2 separate regions of the Homo sapiens genome follow, and region 1 is linked to region 2. Evidence: fine-mapped expression QTL. A gene starts in region 2. The other region holds a variant in brackets. All regions are shown on one strand. Distances are between the middles of the regions. Region 1 overlaps KIAA1614. Region 2 holds the start of KIAA1614.

Evidence for each region.
Region 1: its variant is fine-mapped to the expression of KIAA1614 in tibial artery (GTEx, PIP above 0.99). The same link has a PIP of 0.9 or more in aorta, atrial appendage, cerebral cortex, fibroblasts, lung and prefrontal cortex.

What each region holds. Positions count from the first base shown.
Region 1 is chr1:180,934,878-180,937,771 of GRCh38, forward strand. It overlaps KIAA1614, which reads left to right. Exons shown (of 9, transcript NM_020950.2): 5 at 238-1,793. It overlaps LOC107985231 (a long non-coding RNA gene), which reads right to left. Exons shown (of 2, transcript XR_007066761.1): 2 at 1,881-2,894. Among named protein-coding and RNA genes, the nearest start is that of KIAA1614-AS1, 19 kb to the right of the region's middle. The variant C/T (reference allele first, on the strand shown) is at 1,681.
Region 2 is chr1:180,911,656-180,914,549 of GRCh38, forward strand. KIAA1614 reads left to right here and starts at 1,242. Exons shown (of 9, transcript NM_020950.2): 1 at 1,242-1,638. The coding sequence starts at 1,589. It overlaps LINC02816 (long intergenic non-protein coding RNA 2816), which reads left to right. Exons shown (of 4, transcript NR_185877.1): 4 at 1-2,401. RefSeq lists a silencer at 1,038-1,337.

The sequences.
Region 1 (2,894 bases), 23 kb after region 2:
AGCACGGAAGGTGGCCTTGGTTTTGTTTAGCGCTGTCTCAGGATCAGAATGGGCTGGCAAGCTACTCTGGTTTGCCGAGACGCCCCCAGAAATCCTCTCTGGAGTAACCTTGTGGGTTGCGGTTGCCACAGAGCACGGTGGGAGACTGTAGCCCAGGGTGGAGAGGGTAGGGCCGATGCGTGTCCATACCTCCCCAGGTTTCTGCCCTTGACCTCTCTCCTCCTGTCTCTTCATCAGAGATGGCCACAGAAGCCCAGCCCGGGACCCCAGGACGACCCCTGCCTGCAGAGACAGCCTCCAGAACGGGCACACGAGCGATTCCTCCAGCGGAGAGTCCAGCGGTGGGCACAGGCCGAGGCGGGGCCCCTCGCCGTCGCACGTGCGCTTTGAGGATGAGTCCGCCCGCGAAGCCGAGTTCCGTCACCTGGAGCGGCTGCAGCAGCGCCAGCGCCAGGTGCTGAGCACCGTGTTGCAGGCCGCGGACCAGGGCCCCCTGCGCTCCAAGCCCGACCTCGCCGACTACATCAACGGGGCTCCCCGGCTCCGGGACGCGGGGCAGGGGACATTCCACAGGCTTGTGGGCAGCCTGGACCGCAGGGGACACCCGGCACCGCCGGCACCGGGCAGCGAGAGGAGGTGCCAGGCCTGCGGCAGCTGCATCGACGACCCGCGCCCCGCCCAGGGGAAGGCGCCCCCCGTCCCCAGGACCCTCCAGGAGCTCCAGGCTGCCTGTGGGATGGAGAGGGTGCTGGGTGGCCTGAGCTCCCCACTCCGGCTCCTTCCTGCAGAGCCCCGGCTCCACATGGAATGGATCCGGGAAACACACATCGGAGACACCGTGTGCCCTGCGGAGGTGGACTCTGCCCTGGACAGCACAGACAACTCTGACAACTGCAGGACCGACAGTGAGGAGGCGGGGACCTCTCAGGCTGGCTGGGCGTGTGGGCGGACCCAAGGCAGCAGCCCGCGACTGCGACTGCGGGGCTCCAGGCCTCGAGGCCACAGGTGGTCCAAGAAGGCTGAGGCGGAGCTCCCTTGGGGCCTTCAGGCCCAGCAACACCTGCCTAGGGCTGATGATGTGGAGGTGGAAAATGAGGTGAAAGAGGGCAGAGGACACACGCCTGAAGGAACTCTATTTTTGAGAGAAGATGCCAAGCCTCCTGACCTGGAGTTGAAGCGGGTGTCCCTGGGACCCCAGTGGCAGCCTGGACCAGGGCTGGGAAGTCACCAGCCTCACCCTTTGGATTCCCGGACTCCATGCAGGACAGCCTATGCCACCACCGCCCCCATGACGCCTGAATCATCGGGGCCAGGAGGCCAGGCCCAGGTTACAGAAAGCCACGAGTCCCTGGAAATTGTCTCTCCTTCCTCCCTGCAACAGAGCCATGCAGAGCCTTCTGCCCCACACCAAGCCTGGCAGCCAACAGCTTCCTTGTGTCCTGAAGGCTGGGCGCCAACCCCTCCCCCTTCGAGGAAAACCACCTCGCCAGTGTCTCACAGGAAGGCAGCCCTGGCTGGACTGCTCAGGCTGGGTGACCAGACAGAGCCTGTGGGTATCCCTCGGCCTCCTTCAAGAAGCGCGGTTCTCAGGACCTGTGAGCTGCCCCCATCACAGACCCAGCCCAGCCGCCCTCAGGTCAGGCACCCACTGCTGGCCCTGTCCACCAACAACTGCAACAA[C/T]AGCGCACCTCGGGGGCTGCAGGAGCCCTACGGGGGAGCCGTCCACGAGGGTAGGGTGGAGAGGGGCCCCTGCAGCCGGGAACCGGAGCCGCCCCTGGAGAACAGCAGAGATGGTAAGGGGCTGCCGCTGGTTCCTGCCCAGCCCAGGCCTGGTGTGGTTCTACAGCAGACGCCCAGACCCAATCCATGACACACAGGCCTTCAGAGTCATTCCCTTTTATCTCAATAGTCAGATGGCAGCGTCACATACCACCTCGGCAGCTCCTTGGAGCTGCTCTGAGGTGTCAGGGGTGCTGGTGGAGGCTGGATGCAGGATTGACCGCCGGCCTGGAGGCAGACTAAGCAACTCCCTCCCGGGGGAGGCAGAACCATGGGGAAGGTGGTGGAGACGTCCTCTTCCTGTTGGGAACCCTGAGGTTCCAAGCTCCAAGCTCCAAGCTCCATGGCTGCTGGAGGCCTGGACTTTAAGGGATGTACTCCCAACAGCTCAGGAAGAGGCAACAGCTCCAGGATTTACTATTTGTTTAGAACAGTAGATGTCCACTAATCACATGGCTGAGGCCCTGCCCCTCCAGCATCATTATTTCATTTCATTCACTCATTCATTCCTTCCGCATTGGCTGAGCACCTGTTATGTGCCAGGCACTATACTAGGCACTGTGGGGAATGCACATGTGAATACTTGAGCAGGAGTCCTGCCCTTGAGGCATTCTGTGGCCAGGCAGACACACTGTCCAGAGGACCCTGTGACCAAGGGAACAGGGCTCCTAGGTGGTGTGCTTTCTGGTACCAGACCCTCCCTGGCCCCTGGGCCTGTTGGTGGACCAGTAGGTTTCAGCAGGCAAGGCTGCTGAAGGGTGTGGGTCTCACCACTTTGCCTTTGGAAGGGGTCCTTATATTGTGGGAGAATCCTGGGGGTTGGCAGGCTCAGGCTCTGATCCCTGGTGTTGTGATCCCAGGTGACCAACTCTGCCGCTCACTTTTAGGCAGAGATAACAGGCTCACTCCACACATTTTTGCTCTAATGTGACCACGGCTCTGACAGTCTTGGGGCTGGGATGGCTCAAGAGGGACCCAGGGCTTGGCAACAGAGTGGAGGGAGAGAGGGCAGAGAGATGACAGACCTTATTGAGGATGTGGATGCAAAGTCCCCTCCACTGCACAGGGACACACAGACTTGGTCCCTCTTCCTCCCTTGCTTACACAAACCTTGA
Region 2 (2,894 bases):
CAGCAAGTCCCAGCCTCATTTTCCTCGCCCTCACACAAGATGGAGTCGCTCTGGTTCGAAGCCTCTGACGTAACCTTGGGCCTGTACTGTGACACAGAGGGTTTGCACTGGATAATCTCTCAAGCTCCTAGATTGCCAAGACGCCAGTCCACTCACAGCTCCCCAGGCTCCGCTCTCCTGTTGCCCTGCCAGACGCCCCTTCCCCCACCTTGTGCAGAGTAACCCCCTCCTGACTCAAGAGGCAGCCCCTCTAGAAAACTTCCTTCCCCTCCTCCCCTGCCCCGGTACATATTGCGCGGCCCTTACTGTTGCTGTGTCTGTCCTGTCATCTGGAGGTGCACAACTACCCCATGCTTCACAGTGAAGCCAGTCGGCTGAAGGAAAGATGAACGGGCACTTTCTCTTTGTAGAGATTTCCGGAATCTCCTGAGGCCACTTTTATTGCTTCCCGTCTTTGTGAAAAAATAGGCTTGGAAATAGGTGAGGCTCGGTCACCCCCTCTGGGTGGAAGGAGAAAGCAAGCTCCGTCGGTTTGGGCCGCGGCTGCAGGGAATGCCCCTGGTTGCGACCCCCGTCCCGCGCTGGGGAAAGTGATCTGCTCGAGAGCCCCCAGGACCCTGAGAACCGGTCCCCACCCAAGGCGGCGGCGGGCAATTCCGGCACCGCGGCAGACGGGATGCGCGGAGCGCGTTCCCTCCGGGTTTCCCTCACGCCTCTGGAGAGCGGGAACCAACGACCTTGACCTCGGAGGAAACGGCTCTACGGAGCGATGGACGGCCCCACAGAGAGGGCGGCCGGCTCCTCTGGAAAACTTGTCCACACAAAAGGCATTCCTCAGCTTCCACCCCGAAAGGCGAGCCCTGGGTGTAGGGTTACCAGCGGCGCGCGGAGCCCGCCGAGAACGTGGTGCGCCCCCAGCTCCTGCCCGCGCTCCCCGGCCTCCGTGCGCCCCGCGCGCCTCCGCTCTTGCGCCCGCTTTCCCGCGGGGAAGGGGCCACCGCCCTGCGAGGCTGGCGGCCGCCCCGTCGTCCCCAAGCTCGGGGCCGCCCTGGACTTCCATCCCGCGCCTCTGACGGCCGGGGACACTCGCTCCCTGGGCCGCGGCTCAGGAGAGGCGGCCCCGCGGGGCTCCGGGCGGGGTGGGAGGCCGAGGCCCGGCTCCTCCAGCCCCTCCCGCGGCCCCACCTCTCCGCGCTCGGCTCCCTCTGCCCAGCGCGGGCCGGGAAGGCGCGGGCTTGGCCGCTCTTCCCCTCCACGGCAAAGCCGTGAACGGACAGCTGATGCCACTTCCTTCCCTGCCAGCGCCCTCCCTGCCCGACCCCGCTTCCCGTCCTCTCGCCGGGAGGGAGTGCGGCCCGTGGGGCGCTGCGCCGGCCAGACCCACCCGGGGCCCGGGGGCTGCCAGCAGAGCCGGGAGCTGGCCCGGCCTCGGCGCCGTCCCGGACCCCCAGTCGGCCGCGCCCCGAGGGGCGAGGCCTGCGGGCCGCACTCCCTCCGGCCCCGGATTCGGGGCTGGAAGTCCCTCCCCGAACCCAGCAGCTGGCCTGGGAGGGAGAAGGGGCTGGAGAGGGCCTGGCCTCTCCGAGGGATGGAGGGGACAGAGGCGGCGGCGGCCAAACCCGCGGGCGGCAGCCCCCAGTGAGTATAGAGGAGGCAGCGCCGGGCCGGCCGGGCGGGGGTGGCGGACCGGCGGGGCGGAGGAGCGGGGAGCCCAGGTCGCCCCGGCCACTGGGAAGCGGGCCTCCCACGGGCTCGGAGCTGGAAGGGTCGTGGGGAGGCCCGCCCTTCACGTCCATCTTCGTTTGGCCCCTCTGAGTTAGGGGAAATACATCACAGTGCTTGGGCCATAGAACCAGGCAGCTCCGAGCTGACCGATCTTCCCGAAAGCCCGTGCCCAGGGGACTCCAGTGGGAGGGTCTCATTCTTTAAGGTCTCTGGCGTGCTGTTCCAGAGTTTACCCATCAACAATTCTTACTTTAATTTTTTGGAGCCAGGGTCTCGCTCTGTCGCCCAGGCTGGAGTGCAGTGGTGCGATCATGGCTCACTGCAACCTCGACCTCCCGGGCTCAAGCCCGGCCTCCTCTGGCTTCAGCCTCCCCAAAAACAAAAAGTTATTTTAACTTAACAGAAATTGCTCATATTACATTCTAATCCCCTGTTTTCTGGATTGGACTTTAGAGGAGAAGAAGGAGATGCAAAGAGAAACTTGCTGCATTCTAGATTAACTCATAGAACAAATTATTTCTGTCCTCCTAAAGATAATCCTTAAACTTTACTGGCTTAAAACTGGTGTGACATTTCGCATTATATGTGTATTTTGCTTTATAAAATATGTGCATTCCTGAAAGCTTGTGTATAAATTGAATTGTAATAAACGACTACAGAGAGACTTGCCATTTAAGAGAATTTTATGGTGAATACTTGGTCCGTGTTACGAAGTGGATAACTCCTAATTTGTAGTGTATACACATAAGGATTTTTATGCACAAAGTTTACTTCAAGGGGGGGGGGACATCTAGATGTGTGATATTAAAGTTGTATTTTTCTCAGAAGGTAGAATCAATATTAAAACGCTGTGGCATGTAGATATGCATGCAACACCCTGAGTCAAACCCCTGCTCACCTTCATTCCTTGTGAAGGGATAAACATCAGCCATGCTGCTAAGGATCTGTGCAGCGCTGACAAGCCACCTAGCCTCTGGGGATGGAACATTATCATTTACAGAATAAGGGGAGTAGGGTTAAGTGATCACTACATGTTTTGGAAAAGGCCTGGGCTTGGAATGAGAAGCTTTGGTTTCCAAACTGGGCCTCCTCTTAGCACCTGTGTATTGTAATCTGTGCCTCAGTTTCTCCATCTGTAGAAGTATATAATAAAGCCATTCTTTCTTTTC